Linked DNA regions of Homo sapiens: regions 1, 3 and 4 are each linked to region 2. Evidence: fine-mapped expression QTL. A gene starts in region 2. Each other region holds a variant in brackets. All regions are shown on one strand. Distances are from middle to middle. Region 1 holds the start of CMBL (carboxymethylenebutenolidase homolog). Region 2 holds the start of MARCHF6 (membrane associated ring-CH-type finger 6). Region 3 overlaps MARCHF6 (membrane associated ring-CH-type finger 6). Region 4 has its middle 150 kb from the start of CTD-2154B17.1.

The links. PIP is the estimated chance that this variant, and not a neighbour inherited with it, causes the effect.
Region 1: its variant is fine-mapped to the expression of MARCHF6 in whole blood (TOPMed, PIP 0.98).
Region 3: its variant is fine-mapped to the expression of MARCHF6 in monocytes (CEDAR, PIP 0.95).
Region 4: its variant is fine-mapped to the expression of MARCHF6 in monocytes after triphosphate RNA (Kim-Hellmuth 2017, PIP 0.95).

The regions. Positions count from the first base shown.
Region 1 is chr5:10,306,667-10,314,772 of GRCh38, reverse strand. CMBL (carboxymethylenebutenolidase homolog) reads left to right here and starts at 6,871. Exons shown (of 6, transcript NM_138809.4): 1 at 6,871-7,148. RefSeq lists enhancers at 1,182-1,476, 7,093-7,593 and a cis regulatory region at 4,036-4,268. The variant T/G (reference allele first, on the strand shown) is at 3,104.
Region 2 is chr5:10,348,902-10,357,007 of GRCh38, reverse strand. MARCHF6 (membrane associated ring-CH-type finger 6) reads right to left here and starts at 3,313. Exons shown (of 26, transcript NM_005885.4): 1 at 3,091-3,313. The coding sequence starts at 3,109. MARCHF6-DT (MARCHF6 divergent transcript) reads left to right here and starts at 2,951. Exons shown (of 3, transcript NR_183261.1): 1 at 2,951-3,036; 2 at 5,235-5,470. RefSeq lists enhancers at 2,077-2,648, 3,495-3,754 and silencers at 2,705-3,174, 3,215-3,354.
Region 3 is chr5:10,433,068-10,441,173 of GRCh38, reverse strand. It overlaps MARCHF6 (membrane associated ring-CH-type finger 6), which reads right to left. Exons shown (of 26, transcript NM_005885.4): 26 at 786-7,580. The coding sequence ends at 7,490. ROPN1L-AS1 (ROPN1L antisense RNA 1) reads left to right here. Exons shown (of 2, transcript NR_102746.1): 2 at 1-439. Among named protein-coding and RNA genes, the nearest start is that of ROPN1L-AS1, 4.7 kb to the left of the region's middle. The variant G/A (reference allele first, on the strand shown) is at 3,452.
Region 4 is chr5:10,935,992-10,944,097 of GRCh38, reverse strand. No RefSeq gene overlaps it. Among named protein-coding and RNA genes, the nearest start is that of CTD-2154B17.1, 150 kb to the right of the region's middle. The variant C/T (reference allele first, on the strand shown) is at 4,108.

The DNA of each region.
Region 1 (8,106 bases), 42 kb after region 2:
AGCGGGGTTGGGGACTACTGAAGGGTATGACTGCTAGAGGTGAGAATCAGTACAGGCCAGCCAGCAGACAGCCACAGTCCACCTTCTGGTCTCCAAAGCTTCACATCCTTCCCACATGCAAAATACCATCAACTCCTTCCAAAGTTCCCCAAAGGCTTATCCTATTGTAGCATCAGTTCCATCTCCAGATCATCTAAATCAAGTCCAGGTGGGACTTTATTTCCTTAAATACAGTTTCTACATTATAATTCTTCTTGATAGGTTGTCTGTCTACCTCTGCCTCTCCCTCCCCAATTGAACATGTAAGAGAACACAGAATAACTACTCCAGACGCCCCTGTTCACAAAGGGAGAAAAAAAAGGTGTCGTGTGTGGCTGAGGAGCAGCCTCAGTCCACTGCTTGACAGTAGAATTTTTAGGGTCTTCTTTTTGGCCAGTCATTGTAGCTCATTCCTGTAATCCCAGCACTTTGGGAGGCTGGGGTGGAAGGATAACTTCAGCCCAGGAGTTCGAGACCAGCCTGGGCAACATAGTGAAACCCTCATTGCTACAAAAAATAAAAACAAAATTAGCCATTATGACATGGCTAATTAGGTATGATGACATGTGCCAGTAGTCCCAGCTACTGGGGAGGCTGAGGTGGGAGGATTGTTTTAGCCCAGGAGGTCCAGGCTGCAGTGAGCCAAGATCGTGCCACTGCACTCCAGCCTGATTGACAGAGCAAGACCCTGTCCCCTCCCCCCAAAATAAGTAACAAATAAGGTCTTCTTTTTAGGTTGTATTATTTCTGTTCCTTTCAGTCCAAGCTGGTAACATTTCCGTATATACAATTCTCTTAAACTATGGATTTTCTGTGAATTTTATTGGGGTTCACTCCATAGACAAATGCAACACCCACAAATCTGTTCTCTACCTTTGGCTTCTGCAGACAGCTGAGGGACAAAGCCCCTAAGCTTCCTAGAAGCACTCTCCTTTGATTGAGAGAGGCTGTGGGGTGCACCTTTACTCTATAGAGCAGGCCCTTTGTCTGACTCAGTGGTACTCTGAGATGCCACCTTATATCTCTTTGGAATCTTACAGTCACACCTAAGGGTTCATCTTGGACCACAGTTTTTCTGGCAGGACCTGCATTTGATCTTTGCTTAGAAGCCATTTCTTAATTGTTTCATAATTTGCTAATATAGTTTGGATATTTGTCCCCACCCAAATCTCATGTTGAAATATAATCCTCAGTGTTTGAGGTGGGGCCTGGTAGGAGGGAAGAGTTTGGATCATGGGGGTGATTCAAAACTGAAGCTCATGGATGGCTTGAGTCATCCTCTTGCTGATAAGTGAGATCTTGTTCTGAGTTCCCACGAGATCTGCTTGTGTAAGTGTCTGACGGCCAGGTCCTGTGGTCCCAACACTTCGATAGGTCAAGGCAGGCAGATAGCTTGAGCCCAGGAGTTCGAGACCAGCCTGGGCAACATGGTGAAACCCTCTCTCTACAAGGAAATTTTAAAAATAGCTGAGTGTGGTGGTCGCACCTGTATTCCCAGCTCCTCGGGAGGCTAAAATGGGAGGATTACTTGAGCCTGGGAGGTTGAGGCTGCAGTGAGCCAAGATTATGCCACTGCACTCCATCTTGAGCGACAGAGCCTGACTATTGCTGCAGTGCAGTGGTGTGATCTTGGCTCACTGTGGCCTTGAACTCCTTTGCTCAAGCAATCCTCCCACCTCAGTCTTCCAAGTAGCTGGGACTACAGGCATGCACCACCACACCCGGCTAATTTTTTCACTTTTTTGTAGAGACGGAGTCTCACTACCTTGCCCAGGCTGATCTTAAACTCCTGGGCTCAAGTGATCCTCCTGTTTTGTTTGTGATCCTCTCAAAGTGCTGAGATTACAGGTGTGAGCTACCACACCTGGCCCGGGTATTTCTCTATAGCAGTGCAAGAACGGCCTAATACATTTGCCATCTAGGCAGACTGAGAATTTCCAGAACTATCCAGTTCTAATTCATTTATATTTAACTGTCTTTCCTTTTGTTGACCTATCTTCTAGCATCTTACTAGAAGGAATTAGAAAAAACTAGGTAGTACTTTAAACACCAATTGAAGATCTCCTTGGCCAGATTACCCAGCTAATTTGCTTCTGTCTACATAACTGCAGTCAACAGCATTGCCAAACTGTCTGCCACTGCATAACAAGGACCCCCTTCCTCCAGGTTCTAGTTCATTGACCTCACTTTCCTACAAGTGCTCACTTGCAATCTTTAAAGATCCGAGTCTTAGGCCCAGTGTGGTGGCATGTGCCTGTAATCCAGCACTTTGGGAGGCTGACTCAGGAGGATCCCTTGAGCTCAGGAGTTTGAAGCTGCAAAGAGCTATGACCATGCCACCGCAGCCTGAGCAACAGCGTGAGGCCCTGTCTCTAAAAAACAAAACAAAAACAAAAGACGTGAATCTTTTATCAACAGGTTTTTTCGGGTAAATCAAGGCTTTCACTAACACTCTCGATAATCCAAAGCCACAGTTCCAAAGTCACTATCACACATGAAGTGTTGTCATAGCAGCACCCCACTTCCAGTTATCAAAGGTATCAACATCTGTGTGAACTAACAATCGCTGTGTCACAATTTAGCCCAAAACTTAGCAGCTCACAACAATAAACATTATTATCTTGCACAGTTTGAGGTTCAGGAGTCTGGGAGTGGCTTAGTTGGAGTTTCTGGCTCAGGGTCTCTCAGGAGGTTACCATGGGGTTATGGCATCTGACACTTGGCTGACGCTGAAGGATTCTTGTCCAGGATGGCCCAGGAACATGGCTGTGGGTCACGATTTCTTTGCTCCAGAGGCTACTCAAGACATGGCTGGGAGCTGACTTCCCCTACAGCATGTGATCTGAGAGAGAAAGCTAGACACACACACACAGAGACACACAGAAACACACACACAGAAAGAGAAAGAGAGAGAGAGAAGAGAGAGGTGGAAGTCCCAGAGTCTAATCTAATGTTGGAAGAGACGTACCATCTGATATGGTTTGGCTGTGTCCGCACCCAAATCTCATCTTGAATTCCTGTGTGTTGTGGGAGGGACCCAGTGGGAGGTAATGAATCCTGGGAG[T/G]AGGTCTTTTTTTTTTTTTAGATGGAGTTTTGCTCTTGTTACCCAGGCTGGAGTGCAGTGGTGCAATCTCAGCTCACTGCAACTTCCCCCTCTTGGGTTCAAGAGATTCTTCTGCCTCAGCCTCCTGAGTAGCTGGGATTACAGGCACCCACCACCATGCCTAGCTAATTTTTTGTATTTTTAGTAGAAACGGGGTTTCACCATGTTGGTCAGGTTGGTCTCAAACTCCTGACCTCAGGTGATCTGGCCACATTGGCTTCCCAAAGTGCTGGGATTACAGGCGTGAGCCATGGCACCTGGCCTGGGGGCAGGTCTTTCCCATGCTGTTCTCATGTTAGTGAGTAAGTCTCACAAGATCTGATCGTATTATAGGAAGGAGTTTCCCTGCACAAGCTCTCTTTTCCTGCCACCATCCACATAAGATGTCACTTGCTCCTCCTCGTCTTCCACCATGATTGTGAGGCCTCCCCAGCCACGTGGAACTGTAAGCCCATTAAACCTCTTTCTTTTGTAAATTGCCCAGTCTCGGGTATGTCTTTACTGGCAGCATGAAAACAGACTAATACACCATCACTATGTTGGTAGACTATTGGTCACACAGACCAACCATGGTAAGTGTAGGAGACTACATAGGGTTGTGATTTCTCAGAGGCAGGGCACGTTATGAGTCATCTTGGAGGCTGACTACTACAAAATTATTAAGGGGTAAAATGTCAAGTTGTCTATAATTTCTACACTTTTGAAAAAAAAATCGATGAAGCAAGTTTAGCAAAATACTAAAGATAATTATATTTAGGCCTGGGGTATATGGGAATTAATTGTATTCTTCTTTCTACCTTTCTATATGTTTGTACATTTTCATTAATAAAAAGTGAAAAAAAAAGCAAATTTAAGCTTTCTATCTGGGGATGACAAGATGGCCGACTGGTGCTCAAGAACCTTCTAGAAATCACCTACCCAGCCTCTCACCTGTCTTCACCAGCAGTGCCTTTCCTGTGCACAGGATTCAGCGCTTTCCCAGCGGGCTCCCTGCAGCTCCACCAAGGAGTGCTGGAGGCTGAGTCAGCAGCACGGCCAGGAAATGGTAACAGATGACATAGAATATGTTTGCCCTCAGGTATTATTTTGAGATGTTCTGAAACACAGCAGCACTTTTTCTGATTTTGTTCCAAGCGTCTTTAGAGGAGCAATTCCAAGGAATACTTTTCCTGGCCTTGCCTTCAAGGTCAGTGTAAATCACAGGAGTTTGAGCAGAGTCAGCAATTTTGTTTAACTTTGACCTTGCCCTGTTTGTTAATTCAGCTTGGACTCATTCTGTCCCTGGAATTTAGTTACCTATTTTATAATGAAAAATAAAGATAACTTTGGAGGGGTAACGAGCAGCAAACGCTGAGTCATAGCTCTTTAATTTATAGGGAACTCCATGAAATCTTAGAGTTCATTTCTGCTGAGAGTTTCTGTAAGAAGGAAACTTAATTTTTTTAAGAACCTAGGTTAAATAATCACTTGTGTGATTAATTTTCCATGGAGTTTGGCACTAAAATTGGTGAAGTTGAAAAATTGTCCTTTTAGGTGTCACAAGCAATTTGCGCATTGTAGGATGGAAACAAGAATTTTTCTTCAGCCTGGGCAACAGGGCGAAAGCCCGTCTCTACAAAAACAAAAACAAACAAACAAACAAAAACTTAATTGGGTGACATGCCTGTAGTCCCAGCTACTTAGGAGGCTGAGGTGGGAGGATCACCTGAGCCCAGGGAAGTAGAGGCTGCAGTGAGCTGTGATCATTCCACTGCTCTCCAGTCTGGGTGACAGAGTGAGACCCTGTCTCAAAAAAAGTAAATAAATTTTTTTCTTTGGCGCTGACCCTGAATTTGTTCTGGGTAATAACACTTTGGTAACTTTTTAAATTATTCTGATGTTTAAAAAATCCCTAACCACTATTTTAGAGAAATTCCAAGCCCATAAAATAATTCAACTGCAGATGTTTCAGACTGGGTTTTGAAAGATCCTGTCTGAAAGAAAATTAGTGTATCTCTAGAAGGAAAACACTGTTTTAGTCCGTTTGGGCTGCTATAACAAAAACACCAGGCTGGGCGAGGTGGCTCATGCCTGTAATCCCAGCACTTTGGGAGGCCGAGGCCAGTGAATCACCTGAAGTCAGGTGTTTGAGACCATCCTTACCAACATGGTGAAACCCCATCTCCACTAAAAATACAAAAAGTAGCTGGGCATGGTGGTACATGTCTGTAGTCTCAGCTACTCAGGAGGCTGAGGCAGGAGAATTGCTTGAACCCGAGAGGCGGAGGTTGCAGAGAGCCGAGATGGGACCACTGCACTCCAGCCTGGGCGACACAGCGAGACTCTGTCTCAAAAACAGCAACAGCAACAACAACAACAAAAACATCATAGATAGACTTGGGTAGCTTAAACAACATTTATTTCTTATAGTTCTGGAAGTTGGAAGTCTGGGATGGGCCAGCAGGATTGGGTTCTTGGTGAGTATCCTCTTCCTGGCATACAGATGAGGAAGCAAGCTCCCTTGCCTCTTTTTGTAACGGCACAAATCCCATTCTTGGGGGCTCCACCCTCATGACCTAAGCATCTCCCAAAGGCCCCGCCTCCAAATACCACCATGGGCGGGGTGGTTAGGATTTCAACGTACAAATTTTGGAGGGGACACAAACATTCAGTCCATAACAACACCTTTGCAGTGGGGATGGCAGGAAGTGCGGCCACCACGGTGCAATGGCTTTTTAATGTGCCCATTTGTCCAGGCTGAGCTATATTCCTAGAATTCCCTTTTCCTGTATGTTTCCAGTTTGAGTGAGCCACAGGGGTGTGCTTCTGCAGCCAAGTTGAAGCTGTTGTCATAACCTTGGGCAGATGACCAGAGAAAATACGAAGGAGGCAAGTATGAAACGTGTATTAATTTCTTTTTTAAAAAAAGGCTTAATTTGGGGCTGGGGCCGGGTGCGGCGGCTCACGCCTGTAATCTCGGCAGTTTGGGAGGCCGAAGCAGGTGGAACACTTGAGGTCAGGAGTTCGAGACCAGCCTGGCCAACACGGTAAAACTCCGTCTCTATTGAAAACACAAAAATTAGCTGGGCGTGGTGGCGCGTGCCTATAATCCCAGCTACTGGGGAAGCTGAGGCAGGAGAATCACTTGAATCCGGGAGGTGGAGGTTGCAGTGAGGTTGAGGTTGAGATCGTGCCACTGCACTCCAGCCTCGGCAACAGGGTTAGACTCCATCTCAAAAAAAAAAAAAAAAAAAAAAAAAATTGTGGCTGGGCATGGTGGCTCACACCTGTAATCCCAGCACTTTGGGAGGCTGAAGGGGAGGATCACTTGAAGCCAGGAGTTCGAGGCTCCAGTGATCTATGATTGTGTCACTGCACTCCAGCCTGGGTGACAGAATAAGACCCTATCTCTAAAATAAAATAAAATAAAATAAAATAAAATAAAATAAAATAAACAAAAAATAGCTTAATTTGTATTTACAACAGAAGTTACTTGTCTTGGAAGCCAGGCACGCACGTAAATCTCACAGAAGGCTGGCTGTCTTCCTTCTCCTGGCCTCCCTGCCTCCTCCCTCAAGGCTGCCTGATTCTCTTCTCCCTTCCTCTCTGCGGTTCCCTCCCTCCCACCCCCTCTCCCTGCACCTTTCTTTATCTTGGAGCCTCTCCCATCTCTCCCTCCCTCTTCCTCCCTACCCCACCCTCCGACCACCCCACTTCTTCCCCTCCCCTCACACTTCCCTCCCTCCCTTCTCTCGTCTCCTCCCCACTGCGCCTCCCTCCCTCCTGGCCTTCCTTCCCTTCCCCGACTTTGCAGATTTCTCTTCCCCCAGGCCTCCCTCCTCCACCTCTCCGCCCCCTCCGGGCTTGGCTCTCCCAGGAGGCTACGACTGGAGCCACTGGTCCCGCAGGATCCCCGCGTCCTCGGTCGCCGCGTCCACGTCCCTCTCGCGTCCCCGCCCGGCGCCACGCCGCCTCCTCTGGGTTCGGCCTCCGCGCGGTGCAGCGCAGTCTCAGGCCGCGGGACAAGGTACGTGCGCGTCCCCGGGGCACACAAGCCCACACAAGCCCGGGCCCCGCTCCTCTGAACTCCCGCGTGTGTTCTGACTATGGCAAAGAAGGTCTTTGCCGCGTGCACGGGTAAGGAACTTCCCATAGTCCGTTTTCAGAAGCTGACTTTCATAAAAGTGATACGTTGTCCTTGCAGAACAGCAGCCTCCACGATCCCATGCGTCCGAAGCAGCCGCTGTTTACATTTTGGTATTTTCCTGTAGGTGTTTCGCCATGCATTTTAAAGACATAGTGGAAATCACACCGTATGCAAACTTGCGTTCGTTTTGGCCATTTAGCACGGAGGAGCCTTTCCACCATGCCGTTAAATACTCCTTGTAACTCTCTTCCTGCAGTGAGACATTCTGGTTGTAGCGTTTTTACTAATATAAAACTATTAAAAAACTGAGCATATTTGCAACTAAATCAGCATCCACATTCGACAGCTTTTCTTTAGGGTGGGTATTAAGAAGAGAGGTGCTGGGTCTATGGATCTAAGAGTGGGACATCCTAAATGCTGGGTAGGTGTGCCAGGAACGACTGGACAGTTTACACCCCACAGCCATGTGGGTCGGGCAGGCCTTGGAAACACTGGGCACTGAGATTTATGTCCACTTGCTGATGGAAGATGCCACCTGTTGTTTTCAAAGCCCATTTAAAATAAAGTGGTTAGTAATGAGCCTCGCCGGTATCCGGGGAATCCTGTCCAGGCCTGGGAACCCTATCCAGGCCTAGGAACAGCCAGAGAAAAAGCAGATTCTGCAGGGGCGTCGTTGGCATGTCTAAGAGGGCCATTGTGGGCTCATCCAGGTAGCTTCCTAATTCATGCTATCTCGACCATAGACACTTGGAAAATACAAGCATGGCTGCTGAAAAATAAATATTTGGAGAAGTTTGATGTTTGTAGAATCATCTAAGGATAAGTACTGGCCCTGCCT
Region 2 (8,106 bases):
TCCATCCCTGTATTATGAGAATGGATTATAAACCTGTTGATTTTACAAAAATTAATTTAATACTGAAGAAACTTTAGAGATCTTTAAAATCTAGCAAACAATTAGTATGAAACAGCCATGTCGGAACTAAGTATTACTACAAATGCATAACATTCTGAGCATCAGACTATCATATATGGTACCATCAGAGGCAAGCAATGTGCTATTTTTAAAAGGAAGGGAAGACTTACTATACGCACGGTTGATGTGTTTGTAACATTCTTAATCTCTTTGCTCAGAATATTAAAATATATTTTTAAAGGACAGAGAACCGGCCAGGAACGGTAGCTCACGCTCGTAATCCCAGCATTTTGGGAGGTTGAGGCGGACAGATCACCTGAGGTCAGGAGTTTGAGACCAGTCTGGCCAACATGGCGAAACCCCATCTCTACTAAAAACACAAAAATTAGCAGAGGGAGGTGGCGCGCTCCTGTAATCCCAGCTACTCAGGAGGCTGAGACAGGAGAATCGCTTGAACCTGGGAGGTGGAGGTTGCAGTGAGCAGAGATCATGCCACTGCACTTCAGCCTGGGCAACAGGGCAAGACTCCATCTCGGAAAATAAAATAAAATAAAATAAAATAAAATAAAATAAAATAAAATAAAATAAAATAAAATAAAATAAATAAAAAACAGAACCACAACAGTATAAGTGTTTTCAAAAGTAGGTGATACTGATTTTTTTTTAATTTAGTTTTATGTTTGGCCATACTTTGAATATCTCCTACCAAAAAATTTCTAAGCAGATTTAAAAAACCTAAGTCGCATTTTTTAAAGAAATAACCTATAATAACTGATTTCACAAATAGAACATTTTTTATTAGTTTTTTGGCATCTTTGCTATATCATTTTTAATCCTCTATAACCCTCCCTTTTCCTTTAAGTGTTATTTCAACTTAAATTTAATTGTAAAAATGTCAGAAGACTTCCAAACTGGAATTTTGCAAAAGCAGGCATGAGAATACGGCACTAAAATTCACTTGCATTTCATGACTAATAATTTCATAAAACAAAATAAAGCAAAATAAAGTTTCCACCAAATTATATAAATGATTCATCCTATAGAGGGAGTGACAAAAATAAATTTCAACATTGGACTTGTAGTATACACTCATAAATAAATAATCTAATTTAAGTGCGACTCTGACAGACATGAGTCTGAATCTTGCCTCTGCCATTTACTACCTGTATTATCCTGGACAAGTTACTTAATCATACTAACCATCAGTTTCCTCATCTGTAAAATGAAAATGCCGACTACCTAACGATGTGAGAGAATTAAATGAAATGTATATAAAGTGTTTAGTAAAGCACATACTACACGTTGAGTCTTCAGCACATGTTATTTTAACAGGCAACAGTGTTCAATAAATAAATGTTATGTATACCTTATCCTGATTATAATTTTACAAGAGAAAAAATATATTTAAGCACTAGAAGTACAGTGAAAATATTTCATGATTCCATACGTGCTTCGAGCGCAATTCCTGAATTACCACAGATTACTGTCACACCATAAAAGTATGCAAGTAGCAATGCCCAGGCCAAAAGAATGAGAATTGAATGTAATACGTCCGTACCTATCCTGTGATAAATACATGCCTTACTAGATTTACTCATTAAAACCTGAATCTAAAAGGATGTGAAACCTATGTAGATGGAAATTTACACGCAAGGACCACCTGTCAAAAAGAAATAGTTCGCAACCTTCAGCAGTTTCGCTTTACTATTTTTTCCAAAGGCGTCTCCAGTGGCGATTAGCTACACTCAGTGTATATAATAAACACACTGTGGCATAATGAAAGGGAAATTACTTGCAATCAGAATGCCTAGGTTCAAATCTGCCTCTTACTACCTGTGTAAAGCTTCGACAAGCTATTAAAATAACGAAGCCTACATTTCCACATCTATAAAAGATAATACCTACCTATTCCACAGGCTTTTTACGAAGATGGAACGCGAATGTACATCAAGTGCCACATGTTATAGTTGAGGTATTTATTAAAGGCAAGACTTCTTTAAAAAAAAATAAGTCGTTATCAACTCATTACATAGATAATATCAAACTTTTTTCACTCATTATTGCACTCCATGACGGCGTTTGATAATTCATTTTCGTTTAAAATCGCCAAAATCGCAACCCATAAGGTTGAAAGACGCTCATACCCCCATAAATATACCTAAAGTAGAAAAGCATTTGCACGATAACCGGAACATCAAAAAAAGCAAAATTTAGTAATTTCCTCTATAAACTCACCACTCATTTAAAAACACAGCTGGTTAAAAATAATCTACTACCTTCAGTGGGTAAGAAAATGCGTTTGAAGAGACATAAGGTGTGGACGTTTATATCTTAAGTATTCATTTTACAAGGGTCAGTTTGTTCAATGTAACCGTATCCAAAACACAAGCAATCGCAAAACAAAACAAACAGAACCCTGCTTATAGGTGTCAAGGATTTAAAACCAAATGGATCGCAACAAAAGAGCCTCCCCGTTTAGTAAACAGATTCTCGAGCGGCAGGCAAGCCGAGGACCAGGCTTTTCAACAGGGGTCAGCTCACTCCACTCGGCCGTCATCTGGCGGGGTATTTTTCGCGAAGTTTCAAAGTCAACAAAGAAGTTCTGTCGCGAGGGGGTAGGGCCTGGCGAGCAATAGGCAGAAGGACGTAAAGAAAGACAAAACCCAGTGGGGGAAGGGTGCGGAAAACGCCCCCGGACGGCAGCGACAGAGGCCCCCTTTTCTGGGCCAGCGCGCGACGGCGGGGACAAGGGAGGCCACGCCGGCCTGCAGTAGCCCCGAGGCCCCGACCCCGGCCCCGGCCCCTGCCCGGCAGGGTCCCCGCCCCCCTCGGCGGCGCGGGCGGGAAACGGCGGGGGGCGCGCAGAGGGTCACCTTCCGCTCCCCGGCCCAGAGGCCCAGCGGGTGGACAAACGGCCCAGGCGTCCGCCCCGCCGCGATCCAGCAGCCCACCTCGAGCGCCGCGGACCTGGCCGGGGTACGAACCCGGGCGCCGACGCAAGGGCTCGGGCGCCGCGCGTCGCCGACTTACCTTCCTCCGCGGTGTCCATCTTGTCTGGGGGGGCGGCGGTGACGCAGCCACGAGGCTCCCGCGGCCGGGCGGGGAAAGAGGGAGGGGAGAGGAGGAGGGAGCCGGGCCCGGGCAGGTGCGTACGCTCAGGTGCGAGAGAGGAAGCGAGAGGAAGGAGAGGGGAGAGGGAGAGGGAGAGAGGCTGACAGAAAGCGAGCGACACGGGAGGGGGAGGGGCGGGAACACCTAGGGGCGAGGCCTGGGCGGGGCGCCGAGGCGGAAGGGGCGGGAGCTCCCCAACGACAGGCGCTGTCACTTCCGGCGGCCGCGGCGTGCACTGTCGGTCGGCGGCTAAGGAGGGGAGGCACCTGCATCTGGGGCGCGGCGAATCCTCGCGTGCGCCAGGCCGCCTGGGGTAGTCGCCGAGACTGCGCCGGCCAGCGGGGCCGAAACCTAATCAGGAGCTGAGCTTTGATGGCGGCTTCTGGAGGGACAAAGAAGGCGCAGAGCGGTGGGAGGAGGCTGCGAGAACCTAGCTCCCGCCCCAGCCGACGTGCGAGACAAAGGCCCCGGCGCGGGGCTCTTCGGAAGGCCGGGAGGTTCCTGTGACAATGCGAGTCTGCGCCCCACGCTCCCGCACCGTGATGCCGAGGCCAAATGGCTAGAGTGGGCCCAGGCATCAGCATTTCTGTTTGGCAGCCGGGCAGTTGTGGTGCACGTTTTGAGGAACTACTAAAGCCTGCCTGTGATGAAAAAGGCAAAAGCTGACTTCACCAAAATTACTCCCAGGGAGACTTCTGCATTTGGCTGGAAGGACATTTGAGTAAACCGCTGAGGCTGGTGGTTGAAACATAATCCTCTAAGGGAGATCGGTTCCGATACCCTGAGTTAGGGACGCTTGCCTGGGCAGAGCTAAGGGGAGAATGATCAAAAGCCAAGCTCTGTCCCCGTCAGCACGTCACCCTCCCTCACTGTAATCCCTGACTGTTTTCTCTAAATGAAGAATTATTTAGAGAATATAAATTAGAAGGGCCGCCACGTCAGAATTGCCTGAGTGGGAGCAGTCTTTCCAGCCTCGAAAAATGTTTAAACAATATGCAGATGACCTAGCACAAATAAAGAATGCTAGCAACCGCTGTTATGTGTGAGCGGTGGAATTGGGAGGGCTCTTCCCCCAATCTTCATCAAACAGAGTAAGGTTTAGAATAAAAATAATGAAATACAGTCTTTCAAAAAGAGCAGCGCTTGACTAATGTTACTGATGTCACTCATGTTACTCAAGGGAGGAAAGAACTCAAACTCTACATAATAATACCCACTGATTTCAAGGGCTGGCACGGAGAATTAAGCAGACCGCCATTCTTTATATTTGTTTTTTTGTTGTTGTTTGCTTATGATTTTTTTCTTTCTTTTTTTTTTTTTTTTTTTGAGAAGGGGTCTCGCACTGTCACCCAGGCAGGAATGCAGTGGCGCGATAATGGCTCACTGCAATCTCACTATATTGACCAGTATGATTTTCAACTCCTGTCTTTAAGCGATCCTCACGCTTCGGCCTCCCAAAGTGCTGGGGTTACAGACATGTGCCACTATGCCCTGCCTAAATATGTTTATATATACTACCGCCAAAGAAACAATTTGAAGACGATCTTTCCCCAGCCCCTCTCCTTCTGATCCAACTCCAAGAGCTCACCCTCCCTGTAAGACCTGTAGCAGAGCACGTATTGGCCTGCTGATACTAGGGGCAAAGACCGGGCCGATCAGATGTTACATGGCATAAGGGCGAAGGATTCTGAAAGAAAGACTGAGACTTGCTGGAGGAAGTACTAGTAGTGCCAAGGGCAGGTATGTGACCCTCGGAGCTGCAGAGCCAGGTTAGGATGAAGGGAATGTGTGTGTATGGGGGGCGTGGAGGAAGCCTTCCTTTTGTATTTAGGTGCCTTCCCTTGTGATGTTCAAAGGAAAGTTAACCTGTCAACCAGTTTTCCCTTCTGCATAGTAATTCCTTCTGGAATTGCCCTAACCTTTTCGCATTCAGACTTTAGGCGTTAAATATAAGAGTAATAAACCAACATTTGTTGAGTCCCCACTGTGAGTCAGGCACAAGTTCTCACAACAGCCCTTTGAATACATGAATCAGTCACACCTCTCTTGGTTGCCATTGACAGGAACTCAACTGTTAGGCAGAAGGGAGGAATGTACTGTTGATATGGACAGACTCCAAGAAGGGGAGGGACTGCTGGGACTACTAGAACGAGAATGCCTCTGCCCCTATGGCTCAGCTCTGCAACTCTCTCTGCACATTGGCTTCATGCTGTTAGACCAGCTTCCTCCATATGTCTGGAAACAAGGCCACTGACAGCTCCCAACATTTCATCTTCTGCCTCATCATCAGACAGGCGAGGTAAGGATGATGATCTCTAGTCCCAAGTTAAAAATTCTCAGGGAAGGCTAGTTCATTGGTCCAGCTAGTTGCCTGTCCGTGAATCAAATGATTGTGCCAAAGATCTAGGATCTTTAAGAACATGGACATTGTCATGTTCTTGTAACTGCCATTTCAGGTAAGAACAATGTACACTACCTTGTGGAAGTAGAGAAAGACCGTTTCCCACAAGAAGGGGGAGGACCAAACAATAGATATCCATTACAATTAGAATTCTCATTGTCCAATCAAGAAAAATACTTTTTTTTTTTTTGAAACATTGTTACCGAGGCTGGAGTGCAGTGGCATGATCTTGGCTCATTGCAACAGTCCACCACCCTGGCTTAAGTGATCCTCCCACCTCAGCTTCCCGAGTATCAAGTAGCTGGGACTACAGGCATATGACGCCCAGCTAATTTTTGTGGTTTGTTTTTTTGTTTGTTTGTTTTTGGTATAGATGGGGTTTCACCATGTTGCCCAGGCTGGTCTTGAACTCCTGGGCTCAAGCAATCCGCCCACCATGGCCGCCCAAAGTGCTGGGATTGCAGGTGTGAGCCACTGTGCCTGGCCAAGAAAGATCCTTTATTAAAGACATAGTATACCCATGATTCCAGCCTCGTGTGTGTGTGTGTGTGTGTGTGTGTGTGTGTGTGTACTGTGCTGCGAGAATGCTATAGCAATGCTGGCTTTCCATACCCCAATAAGCAATGAGTAAGAGGGGAAGTGTAGGGGGACACAGTGTAACTGTAACAAACTAACAATGACAACTAACCAAACTCCTTATTATGTCCAATGAACATCCATAGCAATCCTGTGAAGTAAATATTACACACTTTTTTTTTTTTTTGAGACAGAGTCTTGCTGTGTTGCCCAGGCTGGAGTGCAGTGGCGTGATCTCAGCTCATTGCAACCTCTGCCTCCTGGGTTCTAGCAATTCTCTGCCTCAGCCTCCTGAGTAGCTGGGATTACAGGTGCCCACCACCATGCTTGGCTAATTTTTGTATTTTTAGTAGAGATGGGGTTTCACTATCTTGGCCAGGCTGGTCTTGAACTCCTAACCTCGTGATCCACCCGCCTCGGCCTCCCAAAGTGCTGGGATTACAGGCATGAGCCACTGCACCCAGTCCAATTTTTTAAAAAATATATTCTTGGGACAGTTGAAATTGAAAAATTGAAACTTATATAGATTCTGTGAACGGTCTTGTAGCGATGTTAACTTCTTGATTTGGAAGATCCTTGTTTGGGGAAATACCCACTATAGCATTTAGGGGTAACGTGGACTCAGGTCTGAAGCTTGTTCCCAAATGGTTCAGAAAAAGACTAATTGTGTGTGGGGTCAGGGCAGAGTTAACATTGGCGAATCTGGGTGACGACAATGTGGAGATTGTCTTGCACTCTACTTGGAACTTTTCTGTGAGTTTGAAATCATTCTAAAATCATTTTTTAATTAAAATTACTAGGTACTGATAGAACTCTAAAGCAATAGTTATCAAATTTGAGGGTGTCTCTATCACTGGCACCTTTAACAATCTGATAACATCTATGGATTTTGTTCCCAGAAAAAATTGGTTAAACACAAAACATTGCATGAAATTTCAGGGGGGTATATAGATGCCTTGAACTCCATGCATGAATCCTAGGTTAAAAGAACCTCTCATTTAAAGTACTGAGAAAAGTGGTGATGTTCGCTTCCCTTTCTAAGACTATGGCAGACTGGGTTTTTTAGACCAACAATTGGAAATTCTATATAAAATATAGAAAACAGATTCCTAAAAGCACTGAACGCCTGACAAAAATAGTAAGGTAACTACCAGGCCAAAAATTTTTTTTTTTTTTTTTTTGAGACAGAGTCTCCCTCACTCTGCTGCCAAGGCTGGAGTGGTGTGATCTCTGCTCACTGCAACTTCTGCCTTCTGGGTTCAAGCAATTCTCCCGCCTCAGCCTCCTGAGTGGCTGGGATTACAGGCATGTGCCACCACTCCTGACTAATCTTTGAATTTTTGTGGAGACAGGGTTTCACCATGTTGGCCAAGCTGGTCTCAAACTCCTGACCTCCAGTGATCCGTCCGCCTCAGCCTCCCAAAGTGCTGGATTACAGGCATGAGCCACCATGCCTGGCCTACCAGGCCAAAATCTAAGGACAAGAGAGAATACCAAAAAGTAAATGGAACATGAAGGCTGCTTTTGTTTTGCTGAACCAGGCAAACTTGAACTTCTATTTGACAGTTTCTAGCAGCAAAAAGGACGACTGTCAAAGCCCAGAGCCTGCCCAAGGGAAGGCATCTGTTAAGAGACCTTCCACCAGGAGCCTCGCCCAAGACCCACACAGCTGCTCTCTCAGGGGAATGGTGAACCAAGTAAATCTGACTTCTCCTGGAGACTTTTAGGAAACTTATCTGAGCCTTATTTTTTAAAAGTTCCAGAAAAGTTATGGCCATGAATCAGCCCTGGCATAGACTGTACCCCAAATTCATACCCTAGTGATCCAATAATCTTAAGCAGTGAGTTTAGTTTGATGTAATCTTGGACTGCTGGGACCCCCTAAGCACCTGGCAAAAGCAAACACAAATTCTCTGTGGAAGAATATACCTGTGTGCTACTCATTGTCCCTAGAAATT
Region 3 (8,106 bases), 84 kb before region 2:
ATCCACCTCCTCCTGCGTTCCTCAAAACAGGAAGATGGAGAACTACGGAGAGCTACTTCCCAGAGGGGCCGATGGCAAGCACTCCCTTCAAGGAAACTGGGGAAGTTGCCCGATTTTGATCGTTTCCATCCAAACACCCACCAGACAATATATACATACACATTTCTAAATTAACAGCATTGGCAAAAACTGAAAATACTTGTATTTAAAGTTGATGACAGTATGAAAACAAGAAATCCGTCCGGGCGCGGTGGGTCACGCCTGTAACCCCAGCACTGATCACAAGGTCAGGAGTTCGAGACTAGCCTGGCTAACATGGTGAAACCCCCTTCTCTACAAAAATTGGCTGGGCGTAGTGGCGCGTGCCTGTATTCCCAGCTACTTGGGAGGCTGAGGCAGGAGAATAGCTTGAGCCCGGGAGGTGGAGGTTGCCGTGAGCAGAAATGGCACCACTGCACTCCAGCCTGGGCGACAGAGTAAGACTCTGTCCCCGCCCCCCTCCACCCAAAAAAAGAAAAAAAAAAAAAGGAATCTTCTATGTTGTTGAGAGGGATGTTAATTAGTACCTTTATGGGGCAGTAATGTAACACTAAAATTTTTCGATGATCGTGCAATATTACTTCTGGGAACTTACCCTACAGAAATACTATAAAAAGTAATATGGACAAAAATCTTCACCATATAAATTGGGTAAATGTCTTTTGGAAAACAAATCATGGCCTGGCCACACAATGGTATGAAAAGATGCCCGTGTAAAGTGAAAAAAAGCATCTTGTCAAACAATCTGCATAGTATGACACCTTTATTGTGATAAATGATTCTGTGAAGGTATGTCTGGAAGCACACAACTAAACTATTAACAGCAGTTACCTCTGGGAAATAGGACAGGGATTTCAGGTTTTATTTTGGCCATAGACACATTATTTTGATTCTAAATTCATCATTTATTTACTAACTTAGCATTACTATTGAGTACCAAATATTTGCCAGGGAATTGTTCTGGGAATACAGTAATAATTCAGTTTAAAAAAATAAAATCTTTGGAGCTTACATTCAAGTGGGAAACAACATGCAAATATAAACAACAAAGGTAAACCATATAGTATGTTTAAAAGTACAAAAGAGAGCCGGGAGTACAAAATACAGCAGGGAGATGAGACAGGAATGCCCCAGTAGCTGCAGCTTTAGATAAGCCTCAGTGAGAATGACACTTCAGGAAAGAAATGAAGAGGCTAAAGAGCCTGAAGAACATTTGGGTATTGCAAATAGTAAGTGCAAAGGCACGAAGGCCTGACCTGTTTTGGAGGCAGGGAGGACGGCAGGAGCAGGGTGAACACAGAGGTGATGGGGTCAGAGAAGGGAGAAAAGGGGTGCTTCATGTTTTGCCCAGCATTGAAGGCTATTGTGGACTTTTGAGTGCCATGGTCGTCTATTGGAGAGTTCTGAGGGTTGGTGTGATCTGACTTGGATCTCAAGAAGAACATTCTGGATTCAATGTTGAAAACAAATGGAAAAGGAGAGAGAGCAGGGGCAGAGGCAGCAAGCTCAGGAGAAACAGCGATTAAGTAAACAATGGGTTTACTTGTTCAGTTTTGAGACTTCTTTATGTAATCTAGATGCAACTCATTTATCAGAAATGTTTTGCAAATATTTTTCTGCCACTCTACAGCTTGTCTTTTTGTTCTCCTTATGGTACCTTTCAAAGAGAAGTTCTCAATTTTGATAAAGTACAATTTATCGATTTTTCCTTCATGGATTGTGCTTTTGGTGTTGGATTTAAGAAATCTTTTCCTAACCCAAGGCTGAACACGTTTTCCTTGTTGTCTTCTAGAAATTATACAGTTTTGGGGAACTATAATCCATTTGGACTTTAATCTTTGCCAGTGTTAAGATATGGATCAATTTGTTTTTAATTTTGCATCTGATGCCCAATTATTCCAGCATCATTTTTTCAAGACCTTTGCACCTCTGTCAAAAACCAGTTGTCCACATACATGTTGGGTTATTTCTGGACTCTATTCTGTTCCATTAGACCAATGCACAGCCAGCAGAAGGGACTGATCCCAAAAACATATGAGTGAATGAAGAGGAGTACTGGGTATGAAGCTTCTCATCTTTAGGTGTATCCTAAAGAAGAGTTACTGAACAAACACAGAGAAGCAGAAAAACTCCGGCACTGTTACATATGTGAAGAAAAGTTTCAAAATGATAACTAAACAATGTAAAATGAGGCAAAAAGGGGCCTCTACGTAGTGTTTACGTATGAGTGGTCTTAGAGAAGTGTGTGACTAAGTAGAACTAGATTGCAGAAGGCTGAAAGAGTAATGGCAGGGGGACCTACATATACCAAACAGTCACTAAGGAAGTGGCTAGGCCATCTCTCCCGGGTGAACCTTTCTCTGTGTTCCCCATGGCATTTTATTCATACCTCTGTAATACAATCTTTTGCTCATGCTTCTGTTCCATTCTGAGTTCCTTGAAGGGAGACATCATACCTCATTCAACTACAGTACTAAATACAGTGCTAGAAACAAAACAGACACCAAAATAAAAACATGGAGGAGGAGGGGAACGTTACCCTCTCAGCCCCTTGATACGTTAGTTCTCCTTATCACTACATGTTTGCAACAAGAGTAGCTATGAACTGTGGAGCGGAAGGGGGAAATTAATGGCCAGTTTCTGAACTTGACCATGCAATTTCCTTTGCTGAAAAATTTCAGCTTCACAGATTAAAGATGTCTATGGTTCGAATAGCATTTCCTCTATCACCCCTGCATTTAAAGTAATTAAAAATGCACTTGTTTGGGGGAAAACAATCATGGAAAAAATTCTGAACCTATAAACAAAGAAAAATTAGAAATAGTCTGAAGCAAAAGGATCTCCTCAGGGCACTCAGAAGGAAAAAAACATCACGCAAGTCTTTCCTTTTTATCTGGGACATATGGTCAGGTATGTACAATGGATTTGATTGGTTTTACTCTAAGTATTCAGCTAAAAGACAACCTTAGTGAAACTGACTTTCTGATCTCGTAGCAGACATGCAGAAGTGGGCAGTAGCTTGCTATTGCACAAAATGTGGGGCCTTACTCTTCCCAGTGAGGACGGTCTACAGTTCAAGTTAGGGAGACAGAAGGGGAGGGATGTGTCCTCTGCAACTATGCATTTAAATGTATACATAAAAGGGAGTCGCCACAGTCACATTTAACTGGAGTTGTTTTTCCTTCCTATTATAACATCTGGATTATCTATGCTGGCTAATAATGCATATTTCTGCAATCTTAAAGCAATCTTGCAATAACACAAAAACAAACAAAAAAACTAGACTACAATTAACATTCACTTTATTCAGTTTTGTCCTCTCAACTTAGAAGGCAACAAATGACCACATTAAAAAGGGAGCATTTCAGAATATATATACATAAAATTGGTCTGGGTACCCTAAGGTGTTTGC[G/A]TTGATAGAAAATTGACACCCCAAACTAAGTGTTCTACTTAGCTTCTACAATAGTTATTCCTAGACCTTAGATTAGTCATTACATTTTTATTTAAGGTACTATGTTACTTTCATGACTACAAAATGAGGCACTCGTACAAAACAGGAATGAAAACATACATATACTGTCTTGTCTTTATGTCGTATTAATGCCAAAGATATTGTCAGGGATTATTTTAAAGAAGCCCTTACTCATGATGGCTATTTTTAAAAATGGCACAGGACAGTAACAGGCTGAAAAGAAAACACCTGGTTGAGGGGACAAATTAAGTAAATACAAGACAGCTTAACCAAGGAAGTCAGCGAATCTCCACAAATGAGGCTTTTAATAATACTTTACTGGTAAGACATTTTAGTTGGGTTTTTTTTTGATGGCTGAATAACATCCTAAAGAAGTATTTTAAATATAATCTTTTAATTTTACAATGTAGAAAACTTCTCACAGTAAGTAGAGAGCTTAGAGTACTCAACCCTGAAAATGAAAATAAGTAGCTAGCTTGGAAAGTTTTAAAAAGCGCCAGTGTTCTTATGGCACTACATTCTCCTGCACGTGTGCGTGTGTTCACGCACATTCGCAAACGCAATACAATGTAGAACTGTCCAGTGTTTGTTTTGTTTTAAAAAGTCATCAATTCAACCTAAATTCAAGAATTACACTTTAATAGTGGCATTTTGCCAATACAGAAATGACGTATCTTGGATCAAATCATTTTAAGGAAAGTTATTCTATATTACTTGAATAAGGGAAAGAAAATACACAAGACAAGAATCCACAATAATAGCAGTTACATTAAATGTTGAAATAAAAATTACTTTTTGTTTACATCTGGAATTGAGATGGCCCATCTTCATTGTTTCTCCAGAGTACTAAGAGGGGGAAAAAAGTCACCTAAAAACATGGGAAGTTTTTTAAGGCTAGCTATACACAAACGTCACATTGGCATTTTTCTTCAGTTTTCATCTCAACTATTAGTACTAAATAGTTTAAAAATCAAACATAATTTACTAATAATGAACAACTGCACACTTCATACTATGACCGTTTGATAACTGGTCATGTAAAACTATCACCAAATGCTGATTTGTCTTCTATATATAAATAGTAAAAATAAAACAAAAAGGTCTTCTTTCCTAGTTAACCTTCTTGAAGGTTGTTTTAACCCAATATAAAATTAAGCAAAATAATAGTATAATTTAAAAAAAAATTTATGTGAAGAAGGGCAGCAATACTAACATTTTCTGAACTATGGGTTTTCAATATTTAAAAGGCTCTTGGTTAAATACTAAAACCCGGATGCTACCCAAGCAAATATTATGCTGGAAAATGCTTTCCCTATGAAAATACTTATCTCATTGAAAACAACACGATAAAGTACAATTGAAAAACTAGGGGAGAATTCTTAAGTAAGACAATATAAATTACCTGCCAGTAAAATGGAGGGCAATTTTTTGGCCATTCATATTGTTTGTTTACAAAACATTGATAAGATTCATTTAAAATTCTGTAGGATTAAGAATTTTTAACCTTTTGAAGTATCTGCCTAGGATCTCTTGCTGTTAAAACAGATATGTTCCAATGACTTTATACCAAGATCCACAAATTCTTTGAAAAATTAAAAAACAAAACAAAACAAAACAAAAAACCCAAAATTAATATAATCAAGTTGGCCAGGCGTGGGGGCTCACACCTATAATCCCAGCACTTTGGGAGCCCAAGGAGGACGGATCACCTGCAGTCAGGAGTTCCGAGACCAGCCTGGCCAACATGGTGAAACCCTATCTCTACTAAAATAACTAAAATAAGCCAGGTGTGGTGGCACGCACCTGTAGTACCAGCTACTTGGGAGGCTGAGGCAGGAGAATCGCTTGAACCTGGGAGGCAGAGGGTGCAGTGAACCAGGATCGTGCCACTGCACTCCAGCCTGGGCAACAGAGTAAGACTCTGTCTCGGGGGCAAAAAAAAAAAAAAAAAAAAAAAAAAAAAAATATATATATATATATATATATATATATATATATATATATATATATATATATATATATAGTTATATAGTTATATAGTTATATGCTCAATTCAATAATAATGTTTTTCTCCCAAAGAGAGCAATTTAGAAATACACTATGACAGGCAGCATTATATTTTAAAATCCTAATTTTTTATAGTAGGACTAAATTTCTGAGTAAAGGTAGGGCTAACAAAGACCTTATTTCAAATGAGAGAAAAGGCTGCTCTAAAGTGCCAAAGAGTATAACACTGAATCCTATGTCAAGCATTATTTCTGATACTGATTTTTTTTTTTTTTTCCAATTTTGCCTAGGTTGGCCTCGAACGCATAGCCTCGCCTCCTTGTGTGCCAGGACAACCGGCCGGAGCCACCGCAGCTCCCGATACCGATGTTTTTAAAAATATGTTTTAAAGTAATTGCTTACCACTTAGGGAAAAAATTGTTGAAGTATAAAACAGCCAGAACACATTGCTCTTTATTTTGGTAGCTTATGTTTGGCTGACTTGCATATGTTAAAAAATTCTCAGATTTTAGTCTATGGATTTTAATACTATATGAAAATTCTTTTATAGTTTCTGAAGACCTATGTTATACGCTTTCTATGAGAACTTCTAAATTATCGTTCAAAAACAAACACTACCCTTACGATATACCTTTAGCATTAAACATTTAGATCATGTACCCAACCATTCTATTTTTCTAAACTTCTAACCTGAAGCTTTGGTTATGAGGGAAAACAAAGTTTGTAAGGGTTCAGTTCTCTGAGATTTTTCAGAATGTTTCCAACGAAATACATTCCTATGTTAAAAGGCCAGCTCAGCCAAGCTTCCTTCTGGACAAATAATGAATTGGTTTTATTTGAAGTTTTATTCTGTAAACAAAAAGCTTTGGAAACTTTGGGATTTCCTGATGAAAAGCTAGGAGAAATGCACACCTAGTCCTCAGCCAACGAGGCACTAACCAGCGAGACCAGATGTTCTAACCAGTCTTCTCTAATGCTGTCAATCTAAGACCACAACCACATCTATACTTCACAAGCATCTCAGAAGTCCTAAATCCAGTAAGATGCAGTACAGTTGGTGATGTCACTCTGAAAGATTTATGACCTTGCAGGACTTTCGGCCACTGCTACAAAAAATAAACAGATAGTTGTGTGTGGAAAAGAGAGGATGTGGGTGTGGGGTGGGGGCGGGCGGGGGGGCTGACTCATGAAAATCTTCATTTGGACTTTTTTTCTCTAAGTATAGACATGCCCCACTGAAACCCAACTCCCAATGCTGATCACACTAGGAATATTAAATTATCAAAATTAAAAATAATTTCCTCACCTAGCACAAGATACTATACAATATTACAAACACAGACACATGAAAAAAATCAGGCAGTAGGAAATGTACAACAGCTTTGGTGTTATACAAAATAACTTCCACAAACAACTAACAGTGAAGCATAAAGTTCATGTTTTCTTACCACAGACACTCCACTGCTGATTTCTACTTGTTTCCTTTAACGTTCTTGGTAAGGTCTGAATAGCCAAGAAAGAAAGAATGTACAGTTCCCTTAGTGAGAGCTGCTAGGACATCATGAACTGCGTTCCACAAGGCGTCACTGAAAAGTCTTGCCTGCGCACTACTGCTCTGTGGCACGTTTCCTGTCGAGATCACAGCAGGTCCAAAATAAAGTGACAACTAGATTTAATAAATTAATATACATTTTGTTTAAAGATGTACAATGCACATTCTGTTTAATCCAAGGTTTTAGGGTATCAAGGAACTTGTATTTACACATATACAAATCTCAGACAGCAGTAATGTCAGAAGATCCAGGGAGAACAGCAGAATCTTACACCGCTGCTCTCTGAATGCTGAGAACACAAGTCAAATACATTTAACTTAAAAACAACGCTGAGAGATCACTGGGAAAAATCTCCAAAGAGAGAAGTCCACAAAAAAGGACATGTAAAGGGGAAGGTCAAGTTGTTGAGACAACTACTTTATTCTTGGGATGACTGTGGAGGTGGTGGAGATGAGCCTTGTTTGCCAGATTTCCGTTCGTAGTTCACGAGTCGTTGACCCACAAGGTACCTAGGTTGCAAAAACAAGGTGGTTACTCTCTTCTATGAATGTACAGAGTAAAACATTCATATGTCTTTTTAAATCTAACTCCTACTTAAAACTCGTCAATGGTTGGGCAAGTCAAAGGGAGTCCCGAGTGAACACCTGTAAAGGCTGACACATCTACCTAGGTATGGGTTTGTAGGAAGCTGCAGAAGCAGCACAGGCTGGAAGGCCTCCAATGCTGTGCAATGGAGGACATGCTTCAGTCAGTGGTTTAGGGGGTCTCAGAAACTCAGACCTGTGGAGGCCAGGAGGGATACAGTAAACTTATGCAGTGGATTTATCTGTTAAGGTTCAGATTTTATAAAACAACTTAGTGGGCAGATCTAAGGAGACAGACTAAAAACATGACCATCAGAAAGCTAGGAAGGGGCTGGGCGTGGTGGCTCACGCCTGTAATCCCAGCACGTAGGGAGGCCGAGGCGAGTGGATCACCTGAGGTCAGGAGTTTCAGACCAGCCTGGCCAACATGGTGAAACCCCATCTCTACTAA
Region 4 (8,106 bases), 590 kb before region 2:
ACTCAACTGTGAGTCTGCCCTTGTAGCTTCCCCAGGAATCTGTTACATCGCTATCACACCATTGTATTGAAATCACTTATTGATTCATTTTGCAGACTTTCCAAAAGAGAACAGCAACTCAAGGACTGTCCTGGGTATCTTGAAGTCCTACAGTCCTGGCATAATGCTTTGCACACAATGAGTGCTCCATGAATGCAGTGACATAAACAGGTGCTGTGTAATTATCAGGAGGGAAATATTACTGAGCTAATGGACTGGTTCTACAAGAATAACAAAGTGGGTCTCTGCTTAGAAATTATCTCGCACTTAGAAAAGAATTGGATGGGTCAAAGGAAACAACCAGCAAAGAATTTTATTATTGAATTGAAAGTGAAGTTTGTAGGATTTGGGGAATAGGATATATCCTCCAGCGATAGTCCAGGTGACAGTTCTTGGACCCCTAAAACTGGAGAAAATTTAAGTGAGGTAACAGCCTGAGACAATAATGATTTCATGCTTTGGTTAATCTGTTTTAGCTTTTTCTTCATTTGATCATCTATCATAAATCACATGGAGGTAATACCAATAAAATTGGCATCTGTGAACTGGGTGTTTTTATAAGGCTTTATAAAGTAATCTCATGCAAAGTCTTCTCAAACCCCAAATACCACCTTGTCTTTAATTTGCAAAATACATACCTTTCCTTTGAAGATACAAAATCTCTCCTATTACAAACCATTGAACACTTTTTTTTTTTTTTACTGTTTCCTGATTTACAAGGTATTGTCATTCATAAAATCAAGGTGCTGTCATTCATAAAATCCTCTTACATAAGTATTTACCCAAGAATATCTCAAAGTATCTGAAGTATAAAGAGACCAAAAACGCAAAATACATTGTGAGTACTGATACAGGTTTGCTGGTTTCACTGTTTCTCATTTAGTAAAGAAAAACTCACAAACCTTTCACCCTTAAAGGGCATTTTCTAAACTCTAATAAGCACCAGGATGTCAAAGCCACTTCTTTTATCTGCTTGGTAACCTCGCACATAAGAACAGAAGAGTTCAAACATTAAAATGCCATTAAGATCACTTTGGTTGTAGGATTCCCACAGGCTCAGCAAATCTGGGTCTAATTACTGCAGCCTTAAATGTGAAAAGAGGATATTCTGAAGTTGCTTACAGGAAGATCTTACATGATTTAAAAAAAAAAAATGAAAATCAACAGTGAGACAGTAGACAACGTTAACTTAATTAAAAAACAGCTTCTGGTGAAAAAAGCAAAATGTCCTTAGGACTGTTGATACTAAAAACATTGACATATCTGAACTAGCCCAGAAATTAAACCATCGAAACTCCTAAGTGATCCTCTTTTTCTCTACCATTACAGGAGAGTTTGGCGCTTCTCAAAAAAGAAAGAAAAAAGGAAAAAAAGGAAGGAATGAGGAAGTGAGGGAGGGAAAAAGAAAAAGAGGAGAGGGAAGTAAAGGAAGGAAAGAAGGAAATGTTAACAACAATTTAAAAACTCAGGGCCGGGCGCGGTGCTCACGCCTGTAATGCCAGCACTTTGGGAGGCCGAGGCGGGTGGATCACGAGGTCAGGAGATCGAGACCATCCTGGCTAACACAGTGAAACCCCGTCTCCACTAAAAGTACAAAAAAAATCAGCTGGGTGTGGTGGCGGGCGCCTGTAGTCCCAGCTACGGGGGAGGCTGAGGCAGGAGAATGGCGTGAACCCGGGAGGCGGAGCTTGCAGTGAGCGGAGATCGCGCCACTGCACTCCAGCCTGGGCGACAGAGTGAGACTCTGTCTCAAAAAAAAAAAACAACACTCATAAAGTTTGGAAAAGGAGAGGAGACTATTTCTTGTAAAGAGCTGCCACCTGTAAGGTGGCCACCCCGAGGGCTGGGCAACACAGGCCTTGGTTGAAGCCCAGAGACGGACACTTTGAAGGAGAAAGGGTTGGGGTGGGAGCTTTATGCTGAACAGGCTGGCTAAACATACATATTCAACAGGTTACAGGAAGAACTACAAATATTCATGAGGGTGGTCCTGACACATGTATATTGAATAAACATGCGTGTAACATATGACCCATGTTCAGTTTGGGGTGGAGACTTAACATTTAAATGTATTACAATTAGGCCCTATACGTCAAAAGGTCTTTTCAGGACAGTAAGGCAGGCAAGTGTGCACCCACTGTAAACTGCCCAGATCCAGTCCACAGTTGGTGGTCGTCTTACCGGAGAAAGTTACTGAAATCAGTGTTTTGTCCAATTAAAGCTATAGTTATGGCTGGTGGAGCAGCAGGGCTTAGTCAGTGTTTGGAGGTGGCTGAGCTGCAATTGCTTCCATATTGCTTATTTCAGGGCCAGTGCTTGTTTAGCTGCTAGAGAAAAAGAGTAACCTCCTGGCAGTTAAAATGTAGTTGATTCTTTAAGTTTACGGATGTGTGACTTAACCCTTGCCTGGAATGGCCTTGGGCCCTGTTTATAATTTGGCACCCTGTTGCCACAAAGCGTCTGTTCTGCCTGTCTTACGATCTCTATTTTAACAGTAATGCCGGCCAATTGTTGTGTCTGAACCACCAAAGGGAAGGGATGTAACAAGGCCTCTGATCTCCCATCCCATCATGGCCAGGAACTCAGTTTTTTTGTTTTGTGTGATTTTTTTTAATTTTACTTTAAATTCTGGGATACATATGCAGAACGTGCAGGTTTGTTACATAGGTATACATGTGCCATTGTGGTTTGCTGTACCCATCAACCCATCATCTAGGTTTTAAGCCCGCATGCATTGGGTATATGTCCTAATGCTCTACGTTGCCTTGCCCCCTACCCCCCTGACAGGCCCCGATGTGTGAAGTTCCCTCCCTGTGTCCATATGTTCTCATTGTTCAACTCCCACTTATGAGTGAGAACATGCAGTGTTTGGTTTTCTATTCCTGTGTTAGTCTGCTGAGAATGATGGTTTCCAGCTTCATCCATGCCCTGCAAAGGACATGAATTCATTCTTTTTTATTGCTGCATAGTATTCCACGGTGTATATGTGCCACATTTTCTTTATCCAGTCTATCATTGATGGGCATTTGGGTTGGTTCCAAGTCTTTGCTATTGTAAATAGTGCTGTGATAAACATACATGTGCACGTGTCTTTATAGTAGAACGATTTGTAATCCTTTGGGTATATACCCAGTAATGGGATGGCTGGGTCAAATAGTATTTCTGGTCCTAGATCCTTGAGGAATCACCACACTGTGTTCCACAATGGTTGAACTAATTTACACTCCCACCAACAGTGTAAAAGCAAGGAACTCACTTTTAAGGATTTTCTGGGGTCCTCTTGGCCATAAGTGGGCCCAGTCAGTGGGTGGGGTGGGGGGTGGAGCATTGTTGCTTGGGTCTTTATTTTTAGTTTATAGAAGGAAGGACAAAAGGATAACACGAAAATGAGTTTCAGACAGAAGGGGTGGCAGGAAGGGACCCATAAAGGAAATATGGGACCCATAAAGGAAATAAGTGACCCTTTTTGAGATGAGGTGACCACAATTTTGTTCTTCTGAAACCAGCAGCTCTTCTTCTTCGGGGTCCCTCTATCCCCAGAAAGACCTCTCTGTTCTTTACTTCATCTTTCTAATCTTCACTTTTACATTCATCTATCCCCTTAATTTATTCTTTATTCTCTTTCTTCTTCCATCACTGTTTGTGATACAAATTGTAAGGTTGGGAGACAGGGTGTGGAGGTCAGTACTGTGGGTTTTCCTATGTTAATGTTGCCTTGAGAGACAGTAACAGTTTGAGTGAGGTGACATCCTGAGAGAAGCAGTTCTATCTCACCATGCATGAAGCAGTGTGTGTTTTGAATTGAAATTAGTTTGGACGCAGAAAGACCATTGAAAAGACATTTGAATATTATCTGAAATCCTCCTAGATCCCCATTCATGGGGTATGTCTATGTGTCTCCATTTGGTTAGGTGCTAGGAAAGCTGATGGGTTCAGGAGAATATCCTTGTACAACCTGGAGGTCACTGGGCCCCTCCTTTTCCCTCTCTCAAGAAGTAAATTTGCTAAAGAAGTTTTTATCTTCTCTCAGAGCCACCTCTAGATATCCCCTCTCTGCCCTGAGTGGGG[C/T]TCAGAGCTATTGCAAATAGCCATGTAAGAGTCTATGGTGTGACCTGCCCATGGGGCCAACACCCTCCTCTCCCACTTTCTCTCCCAGAACGTAGAAGGACAATGCCCTGTAGAAGGCCTGGCCCTCCATGGTCCACCCAAATCCCCAAAACTCACACTCCAGACTACTATGTACATAGAGATGGATGACCTCAGTCCATTAGCTCAGGTGTTCAATAACTGGAACTAGTTTCAATTCAGTTTCTCTTCAGAGTGACCCTTGATTCCTCATGGGGCGTGGGGCAAGGGAGAGGCTTCAGTCTTTAGGCTGCGGGACATCACTGTTCTCCTCTAGTCCATCCTGGGGACAGATGGACTCAGAGACAGGAGTTGGGGCAGGGGAGGTGTGGATTTCCCCAAGGGTCTAGTTCCGTCCTCAGGGGTGAGAATGGCCCACTGGCTTATGCCCTCCCTGGGTGATCTATAAAGTGAACAAAACCTACAAAGACTAACCTGAGGCTTCTCTAAACACAGCAGTCCAACCCTGGCTTCACCTTGAGTGATGGTCTAGGATAGCATTGGCCACAGATGAAGAATGATGCCGCTAAATGGAAAGAGAAGGGCCGGGCGCGGTGGATCAGGCCTGTAATCCCAGCACTTTGGGAGGCCGAGGCGGGCGGATCACGAGGTCAGGAGATAGAGACCATCCTGGCTAACACGGTGAAACCCTGTCTCTACTAAAAATACAAAAGCTTAGTCAGGCGTGGTGGCGGGTGTCTGTAGTCCCAGCTACTCAGGAGGCCGAGGCAGGAGAATGGCATGAACCCGGGAGGTGGAGGTTGCAGTGAGCCGAGATTGCGCCACTGCACTCCAGCCTGGGTGACAGAAAGAGACTCCATCTAAAAAAAAAAAAAAAAAAGAGGTAGGTGGAGAAGGTTACCTGAGCTCCATGCCTGAGAGATCTCTCGGGCTGTGTGAGCCAGGCTTCTCCAGCTGGCTCAGGGAGCAACAGGACTGAATCATTAAGTGCTGTGTTCACAGCCTCCTGCCTGCTGACTCCAGCATTGTTACTTGAGAGGAAGGGCTGGCAATCGAGAAACAGGACTGGAGATGTGCTGGCCACTCCCGTGGCACCCTGCGTAAAGCTCTGAGCCCCCACACCAGCACCCCAAAGCTCAGATGCTAAACAGGTGACTTCTTTTTTATTTTACTGAGGAAGTAAAATTATAACCTTTGTGACAAAAGAGGCTGCTTCACAGAATGGATAAGGGCAAGGACTTGGATTGAGAAAGGCTGTGCTCCAATCCTGTCTCCAACCCTTACTGCAGGGATACCAGTTTAGCTCCTTCATTACTTTGCCTCTGGGAGCCTCAGTTTCCCCAGCCACAAATTGGGTATGATAGTAGTATTTTCATCCTAGGTATATGGAATAATTAATGTAAAACACATAGCATTCAATACATAGTAAACAATAAATAAATTATAGATCTCCTTAATAAGTAAAAAGATTTGAGGTTACTAAAAAGATGGACATCACAATTTTTATTTTCTTTTAAAATTAACTTTATTGTGATATAAAATAATTTATAAAATGTTCCCATTTTAAGGATACAATATAGTACCTTCCAACAAAAGTATTCACTCATGTAATCACTACTCCAATTAGGACGTAAAATCTCCTCACTTACTCAAGGATCTCTCCTGTTCCTATGAGGTGGTGCCCGTGTGATAAGGTTTTTCTCGGGACTTGAAACCTGGGCCATACCGCGGGAAGCTGGGAGCCTCAGCCAGGGCAGGAAAGGAAAGACAGGGTGAAGACTGCAAGAGGACTGTTGTTGAAAACCTGTGCGATGCACGAGAGGCACGTCAAGGGACTTGCTCCCAGAAATAACTGGGTATATTTGGAGGGGTGGCTGAGGTCCTCCTACCACAAAATCTGGAGCCATAGAGCCACTTAGCAAAGGGGCTGCCTTGAGACCAGAGAGCAGAGCCTGAGTTCCTTGACCCAGCATCGCATGGTCTTTCACCACTGGACACTGGACACTGTGACACCTGCTCCCTGTCCGACGCCAACTTTACCATGCTGCTTACAATCCTTGGAGCACTGTCAATTGACTAGGACCTCCAGGAAAGTAGAAACATGCCCATTTAATTTTCTGCTGTGCCCAGGGCTTAGAATGTATGTGGCATATAGCAGACAGCAATAAATATTTGTTGACTGAATAAATGCTCGACAGCCTCACATCCATGTCCTTTTCCCTCTGGTTCTCTTTGTCATATATTCTCTCTCCCACACCCCATCCTTACCCGATTCTGACTTCTTCAAAGCCCATGTGAAATTGCTTGCTATGAACCCCTTCTCCCCAGGCAGGGCAGAACTAACCACCTCCCTTCCCCAGAGCCTGCAGCATTTTCATTCCTGTATTTAGTACTGACCTCTCGATCCAGAGATCTCATGAGCCTTGCTTTAAAATGGCACATATCAATCCTGAGGCAAAGAAGCTAAATCTTTATTTAATCCACCTCCAAGATGTGCCCTCCTCCCCTTTTTTAAGCCATAACTGAAGTGCCCTATATCACTATGCCAAAAGCCAGAAAATTATTAACAATGTGTGCCATGAGAATAATGAAAATGACAAGCCTCTGTTTCCACCCTAATTAGTTAATAATTAAAACTGCCTTCGAGTTATCGAAAGAGTAACAACTGTCTTGCAGTTGCAGCTTCATCTAGAAGGAACATGTTGGTGAGTGTTTCACTGCTGGTTTTCAAAATTAAAATCTCATCACTCAAAGAGCATCTAGCAACATCCCAACATTATAATTTCAAAAGCTCACTCTCAAAAATCTTATTCTATTAGATGCAGTGTTAGGCTGAATAAAAGGCTCGTTTTTGAAATGGATAATGGGACTGCAAAATACTCAAGATGTCATGAGATCCACTTCTGTTTTCTTCAGGTAGGAACTGTTTTAGCCACTGTGAGCAAAGGAATTGACTCTGTTATTCTTTTTTTGGTTTGTTGTGTTTTTGAGACGGAGTCTCACTCTCTCGCCCAGGCTGCCAGGCTGGAGCACAGCGGTGCGATCTCGGCTCACTGCAACCTCTGCCTCCTGGGTTCAAGCGATTCTCCTGCCTCAGCCCCCCGGTTAGCTGGGATTACAGGTGCCCAACACCACACCTGGATAATGTTTGTATTTTTAGTAGAGATGGGGTTTCACCATGTTGGCCAGGCTAGTCTCAAACTCCTGACCTCATGTGATCCACCCGCCTCGGCCTCCCAGAGTGCTGGGATTACTGACGTGAGCTGCCGCGCCCAGGCGGAATCCATGCTATTCTTAAAGACCTTCAGAGGAGAACACGCCGTCATGCCCTGCAGGTACTTTTGCAGTTAGGCAGTGTTTCTACTAACAAAGTCAAGCCCAAACATCCCCTTTTGTTTAGGCAACATAACTGGTTACACTTCAGGAAACTCCAAATGCTAACAAACTAGAGATTCACTCTCATATATTTAAGACACCCATCGCAGCTCAGCAAATTCCACGACAGCATGGCTCAGAATAGGATAAACTATTCTGAATCCATGCCCCAACATCCAAAACATAAAAGTACTAGAACAGTCCTAATGTAACACCATTACACACATCCACACACCAGGGTCTCAGTGAGAATGCGAAAATGTCAGTCGGTCATAGTAGAATCATTGGTTACCAGAGACTGAAGGGGAAATAACACGGCGCCTGGTGGCTGATGCACAAATCCCCAGTTGTAAGATTAACATCACACTCTAAGAATAAAATCCCCTAAGACTAGAAGTACCCAGGAGGGCACCTCCTTTTTTCTCTGACCTTCTTGTTTGACTGTCCCAGCCACCATGATAGTACCTGTATAAGACATTTCTAAGTGGCTCTGGAGAAGCAATCTCCCTAGGCAAGCAAAATGTACTCTGCTAAAAATATTTAATTTTTTTTAATTTAACCTAAACTCTCATAACTCCATGTAATGATTTCTTTGTGGCCTGAAAT